Homo sapiens: one gene and its partner. The protein of the gene in region 2 interacts with the protein of the main gene of each other region in a biochemical or structural test. Each region holds a gene or a part of one and is shown on either strand. Other genes may lie near its edges.

Evidence for each region. The genes of interacting proteins can lie anywhere in the genome.
Region 1: the proteins of ANXA5 (region 2) and ITGB5 form a complex in vitro, tested with the Homo sapiens proteins (one study listed by BioGRID).

What each region holds. Positions count from the first base shown.
Region 1 is NC_000003.12:124,796,706-124,800,453, forward strand, and holds part of ITGB5 (integrin beta-5 isoform a precursor), read right to left. Parts: intron 113-3,748; coding exon 1-112.
Region 2 is NC_000004.12:121,683,270-121,687,017, forward strand, and holds part of ANXA5 (annexin A5), read right to left. Parts: intron 3,104-3,748; coding exon 3,019-3,103; intron 1,503-3,018; coding exon 1,408-1,502; intron 209-1,407; coding exon 95-208; intron 1-94. UniProt on the Homo sapiens protein: This protein is an anticoagulant protein that acts as an indirect inhibitor of the thromboplastin-specific complex, which is involved in the blood coagulation cascade.

The DNA of each region.
Region 1 (3,748 bases), on a different chromosome or scaffold from region 2:
AGGTGACCCCCACCTCCAGGCTGTCCCGGAATCCCACCGGCCGCAGGGCAAACACATGCTCCGTGTGTCTGCTGGGACAGCTTCGGGCCTCCAATGATACTTCAAAAGATGCCTGGGCAGAAGGAAGAGAAGGGATATCATGGCTGCGGCAAGCCAGGGTCTCCCATTCACCCAGGGGCAGGGCCCTTGATGAAGAGCAGCTGCGAACTCCAGCCCTCTCCACGCACTCAGGTAGAACCACCAAGATGGCCGGAGTAGGAAGAGACCTCAGAACCAGCAAGCTCCCATGCTTCATGGAGAAGAGAATGCACAGGTGAGCTCACATTTGACAGGTGAATTCTTTAACATTCATTATCTCTTTGCATCCCCATGACCCTGAGGAAATGGGCCCCTGCGGAAAGCTATAGGGCTTCCTTGAGTTCACACAGTTCTTATTCTCCCTTTCTTTTCTCTTCTGTCCTATCCTCTTCCCAGCCCCGCTGCAGATGCCTCTTCTCTGCTCACTTAAAAAGTCATTTGGTGGAAAAACATTTCCTGGGCGCTGCCTCTGTGCCAGGCACAATGGCACTCTCACAGGGTGCCGGGTGAAGGGCACCCACCTGGCCCGCCATAGAGAGGGCTCTGTGCCTGCTGGCAAAGGGCTCAGCTGACTCCAGAGCTTGCTCTCCAGACACCCCCGAGTCCCCCGTGCCCCAATTCCTCCTCTGTGAGTGCTTGTCATAGCTGCATCTTTCACAATCCCCCCATGCCCCTGAGGTCTTAAAGAAGAGTCTCCAACTGATGAAATGCACCATGCACATGGACAGACCTTTTCTTTTTAAACAGAATATGTAAGGAAGTGTTTCTCACTCAGGAGCTTCTCACAGATTGCCTTGAAAACAGGCTCAAGGTGGGCCTGGATGGGTGGCAGATGGTGCGGGAGGGATGCCTGTCAGCTGCCCACAGGGCTGGGATGGAAGGAAAGCAAGAATGAGGCTTGGTCTGATTCAGGAACTAGAGCCTGACTCCCCCACCCTCTCCTCCTCACCCCCCTGAGGAGAGCCATGTGGGGTCTGAATCACCCATCAGGGCCCTGAGAGCAAGTCACTGTGGATTCTATGAAAACGCACAGACAGGTGGCCAGTGTGCCCTGATGAAATGCCGTTGTAAAGTTTTACTCAGGGGTGGGTTCTCCCTTACTCCCTGAACAGACAGAGGCCCGGCCCACCCCACAAACAGACTCACTGGATCTGGGTCCAAATGTCTTTATTTTTCAAAAGGCTCCTCAGATCATTCTGAAGCTCAGAATGGGTTAAAAACCACTTTCAGCTATTACTATTCTTAATTCTATTCTTTCGGCTAGAATAAAGCTTTTTTTTTTTTTTTTGAGGTGGAGTCTCGCTCTGTTGCCAGGCTGGAGTGCGGTGGCATGCACTCAGCTCACTGCAATCTCCACCTCCCGGGTTCAAGCCATTCTCCTGCCTCAGCCTCCAGAGTAGCTGGGATTACAGGTGCGCGCCACCACACGCAGCTAATTTTTGTATTTTTAGTAGAGATGGGGTTTCACCATGTTGGCCAGGATGGTCTCCATCTCCTGACCTCGTGATCTGCCCACTTCGGCCTCCCAAAGTGCTGGGATTACAGGTGTGAGCTACTGCGCCCAGTCATTAAAGCTAATTTTTAAAATGTCATCATTCACTTGATTTACTGGACAATCTTCAGGTAACAATGTTTTTGTTGTTGTTGTTGTTGTTTGAGACAGAGTCTCTCTGTCACCCAGGCTGGAGTGCAGTGGCACCATCTCGGCTCACTGCAGCCTCTGCCTCCCAGGTGCAAGCGATTTTCCCATCTCAGCCTCTCAAATAGCTGGGATTACAGGTGCCTGTCACCATGCCTGGCTAATTTTTGTAGTTTTGGTAGAGACGGAGATGGGGTTTCACTGTGTTGGCCAGGCTGGTCTCAAACTGCTGACCTGAAGTGATCCACCCGCCTTGGCTTCCCAAAATGTTGGGATTACAGGCGTGAGCCACTGCGCCCGGCCCACGATGTTCATTTTTTGAGAACATTATAAATATCTGTTTCTAAACATACAGATCCCTATTACTTTGAGATTTTTACTGGTTCTAAAAGGCCTCCCCTCAGATGCTGTGACATCTAGGGACACGGGGAGAGGGGAGAGGGTATGGGACTGAGCAGGAGGATAGATCCTGCTCTATAAGTCCTGCAGAAAGTCCTGCGTGGCAGCAAACTGCTGTTTCAAAGGACTTGACAACAGACACCCAGGACTCAGCATTAGCCAAGAGGCTCAACAGGAGAGGCTTCTGGATAGGTGAGCTGAGGATAGCTAGGGGAGCAGGATCAGAAGACACTCGGGGGACCAGGCCAGCTGCAGACAGCTTGGGCTAGCTCCACCTTACCTTCCATCTCTGTGGGGTAGGAAGAGTAGGAAGAGACAAAGGGGAGAGATTGACAAAAACAACTCCAAGGCTAAGTTCCAAGGTCTCGAGGTACAGGGAGTCTCTCAAGGTGAGTAAAGATTCAATCCACTTGGACACTGAAATTGGTTAAAGGATAACACGAATAGGATGGGCGTAGTGGCTCACACCTGTAATTCCAGCCCTTTGGGAGGCTGAGGTGGGCAGACTGGGAGGATCACTTGAGGCCAGGAGTTCGAGACCAACCTGGACAACATGGCAAAACCCCATCTCTACCAAAAGTACAAAAAATTAGCCGGGCATTTTGGCACATGCCAGTGGTCCCAGCTACTCAGAAGGCTGAGGTGGGAGGATGGCTTGAGCCCGGGAGGGGGAGGTTGCAGTGAGCCGTGATCGTGTCACTGCACTCCAGCCTGGACGACAGAGTGAGATCTTGTCTCAAAAAGAAAAAAAAAGCAAAACAAAACACTAATAATTATTAGTTGCCAAGTGCCTACTATGTACCAGGCACTGTGCTGGACTTTTCCACAAGCATCTCTTTTAAATGCCCTAGAAGGAAGTGTCCTCATTTTACCAGAGAGAAAACAGGGTTGGCGGGGTTGGTGGATTTAGTCATGCTCACACAGCTGATGAGTGGGGCCAGGCCTAGAGCAGGGCCCGCGCTCTCCTTAGCATATCCACCTCCTAGACGGGGGAATGAGGTCTACCTCATCGGGGTGCGCAGGGAGAGCCAGCCTGGCTTACTAAAGGGACCCCTTGATGGTGATCCCCAAAGTGGTGGCCAGAGGCATCTCCACATCTTTCTGCCGTGGGCTGGGAACGATTTGAGCCTGCAGATAGGATAAGAGTGGGGACTATGCCTGCCCGAAGCCACCCGTGGGGCCATCAAGAATGCAGAGGTGAATGGAGCTTTGAGGGGCAGATGCCATCCCTCCCTTCTGAGGCCCAGAGAGAAACTTGCTTGCATCTCCTATTACTATTTGCTTGAAGCTCCCACAACAGTGACATGCTTGAAGCTACCTGTAGCTTGCTTCAAGTTACAGCTGAAACCCTGTACTTCTAGGGCTACAACTTGCTGGACTTGTGCTCCACAGAGGCATCTGCGGGTCAGAAACTGAATAAACTACAGAGGAATGACCTGGACCAAGAGCCAAAGGCATTTAATTATTGAAAGACTGTGGGGAGTACACACCTGTGAGTATAACCTTGTCTCATGGAAACTTGCCTGCCTTGGGGTTAAAGCAATGAAAGTGAGAGTTAAGTCTCCAGAATCTTGCTGATGTGTCTGGGAGAAAGTGGGAGGTTAGGGCACCCCTAAAGTTCTGGCACTCAAT
Region 2 (3,748 bases):
AAAATTTTTTAAATATAACAAATAAGAGGAAGTAATTACCAAAACAAAATAATACTATCTATGCAAGAATGTTCCTTTCACTCATCCTTTTTACCTTCAAGGCATGTTTCAGTTCATAAGCATCATAAAGCCGAGAGGGTTTCATCAGAGCCACAATTAATTTTTCAAATTTTCCAGTTAGTTCTGATTTCAGGTCATCCAGAAGATCCTAACCCACAGAAAATACAAATTTGTTAACCAGCAGAAATTGTAATAAGATTCTTCTTAAATATGAATGACAGTCCTTTGCTCTAATGAATTCTTTATGTTGCTGTCTCCAAGTAGAAGGCCCATGAGCTAAACAAAACCCTATAACCTTGAATAACATACTTTTAACCTGTGACCAAAATCTTAAACTAAAGCAAACCCACTTATACGTCAAGATATTTGTTTCTAAAAGATGTTTTTCTTAACTTGAAAAAAAAGAATACCTTTAAAAGTAGTCTAAAACTATTTTATAAAAATACTATTCTGAGAAACATATCTTCTTTGTAATTTCAAAAAATAATCATATAATGAAATTTACAAAGGACAACATTTAGTCTCTCATACCCAAACGTAATAATTTTTTCTTTTCTCTCAATATGTAATAACATTCAAACACATAATAGATTATAGTCATTGTTATGACTCCTGACCACTGGGAGATATCTGTTCCTATGGGGAAATTGTGTATGTAATTATGAAAAAATTATGTAATTGTGAAAAAAAAAACACAGTATTTCCTACCTATAAGTTTCAGCATACCACACAACTAAAAATGGTGTTTAGAATACTTTCTTTTTTGCTTTGCACTTGTTTCCTTAGTTAAGTGACATACGTTTTCAGAATAACAAGACTACATTTAAGTTTTCCATGCATGCACTAATTCATTTAAATTTAAATAATTCAAATAATTCATTTAAATAATTCAAATAAATTTTTTTGAATTATTAATCAAATAAAAGCATTTAAATCAACTAATTAAAAACCCATTAGTTAAAATCATGACAAAAGGAACCAAGACTGTGACTGTGTTAAAACAAAACATATTTTAATACAGGCTTACACCTAGAAAATGGATAGTAAGACATCCATGTGAATGCTGAGTGGGAAACACAGAGGAAAAGAAGAGAGACAGTTCTCACTACAGGATCTTTTGGCACCTCTACAGCATTAGGCAAGGAAAAACAATTATGTGAGGATAAGCTGGGTGAGCACTGTATCCTAAGAGCTGATAATTTAGAGGAGAGTGGAAAAGAAACAGAAGTAGGGAAGTCGGAATCACAAAATAAATGATGCTTACAAAAGAATATCAGTATATTCCAAACTAGTCTTATAACTGATAGCTGTTCTCCCATTCTCTCTTGGGATGAAGTGTGGTCTTACCCTGCCAAACAGAGTCTTAAAAGCTGCAGAGATTTCCTGGCGCTGAGCATTACTTCGGGATGTCAACAGAGTCAGGATGCTCTCCTCATCTGTGCCTGCAATTTATGGTTAACAATTACATTTTGGCTCCTACATGCATACTCTCCCAACGATCTTGGCAACTCGCTTCCCAGTCACCTTATTTCCTTGCCTCTCCCTATGCGAATATAAAATATATTTTATGGCCGGCGCAGTGGCTCACATCTGTAATCCTAGCTCTTTGGGAGGCCAAGATGGGAGGATTGCTTGAGGCCAGGAGTTCAAGACCTGCCTGGTCAACATAGTGAGACCCCCATCTCTTAGAAAAAAAAAAAATATGTATATATATATATATATACACACACACATATATATATACACACACACACACACAGACGCAAATACACACATATATATAAATGTTTTATTAAACAGTTTATTAAAAATTTACAATATATAAAATGTTACGTTTCCAATATATTCTACCCCCCATTCCCAACCTATTGTGAAGTAGATGGAAAAATACTTCTGCCTTTTAAAAAACTTAGGGCACCTAGTTTTTTAAAAACACACAAATAAGTATGAGCTAAGGCAAAATGTGACAAGTGCCTCAGGAGAGATCTAGGTGTTAAATGGGGCTCAAAGAAGGGTCTCCTAGCTGATAGGAGGTGGAAGGGAATCTTGGAGAATGATTCATGGAGAAGGTGACACCCACAAGTATTGAAGGATGGAAGGATTGTGAAAGGCAGTGACGAAAGGAAGGACAGCGTTTAGAATGAGAGAAAAGCTCAGCAGTGGGGAAATACAGGGCTTTCATAAACAGCAGATAAGCCAGGATGGTTGGGTCTGAGAACACATTAAACAGTAATGGGAGATGAGTCTGAAAAGGTGGGCTGGATACAATGGAAGGACTTACAGGGCCAGAAAGCACATGAACAGTAGTACAAAAGGAGCCTGAGCACAGGAGATCAGTGACACATGGAAATCCTTGAGATGAGAGGTTTTTAAATGACTAGAAAAGAGGCTGGGGAAAGAGAAGAGTCTAGCAGAATGAGAATGGGATATCTGATTGGGAACAGAGCTGCACAGCTGCCCACCTGCAGGGATGGCTGCCTTATCGACTCGGGCCTCTACCACACAGGTGAGGGTGACAAGCTCAAAAGCACAGAGGCTGAATTTAACTGCCTGTTCAGTTCTAGAGACTGAATATTAGGGATGGTTTATAGCAAGCTTGTCCAACCCATGGCCTGCAAGCCACATGTGGCCCAGGACAGCTCTGAATGCAGCCTAACACAAACTCATAAACTTTCTGAAAACATTATGAAATTTTTTTGCTTTTTTTTTTTTTTTAGCTCATCAGCTATCATTATTGTTAGTGTATTTTATGTGTGGCCCAAGATAATTCTTCCAATGTGGCCCAGAGAAGCCAAAAGACTGGACACTCTGGTTTATAGTATTATTTTGTTATCTTAACATATCTCTTCTCCTACAGATTTCAGATCAAAATATTCTAAAATTATTCTTACTGTAATTAATGACTTGTTTGGAAAAACAAATATCACATTTGCTTTAGAAAGAGGAAGCTAAATTTACCCAAGCCTTTCATAGCCTTCCGAAGAGTTTCTGCATCAGCCCGCTCATCAAATCCAGGGAAGTCAGTCACAGTGCCTCTGAGAACCTAATTCACGAAACACAGTGGTATTATTCATATCATGACTAATATGACAAAGTAAATAACACAAACAGGAAGCCGCTTGCTATATATCATATTCAGTCATTAAATAAATTTACCATTTGATAAGATTTGTGACCCCTTTTGAACTGGGAAGGGAACCATTTACAATGGGAATTGGCATGGCCGATTCAGCACAGAAGCTATCCTGATCACCTGTAATACCATCAGTGGGAAGGCTGGCTCCCTCTTCTCTGTGACGAAACCCCACCAACACCTCCTGGTTCACAGAGGGCACATCTTTGCAGGTTCCCTTCCCATTAAGTCTCACACCATTTTGATCTACAAGCATACTGAGCCCGCACTAAATCTTAATACCCTATCCTGAGTACTCAATTTTAAGCAGTGCTCTTGTTACGTGCCTTTTGATCTAAGTCCTGTTTCTGTATACATACTTAGGGACTTTACGATAACCCAGCAAAGCCTGAAATGATCGTTCACGTGCCAGAGGAATACAAATCTTTGAATTTAGAACTTTATAAAGGTGTATTGGAAGACATTCTTCATAAAGCTTCCTGTTACACATTACTTTATCATATATATACACTGCTTTTAATAACCAAAATATCTTCGTATTTCAAAAAAAATTAG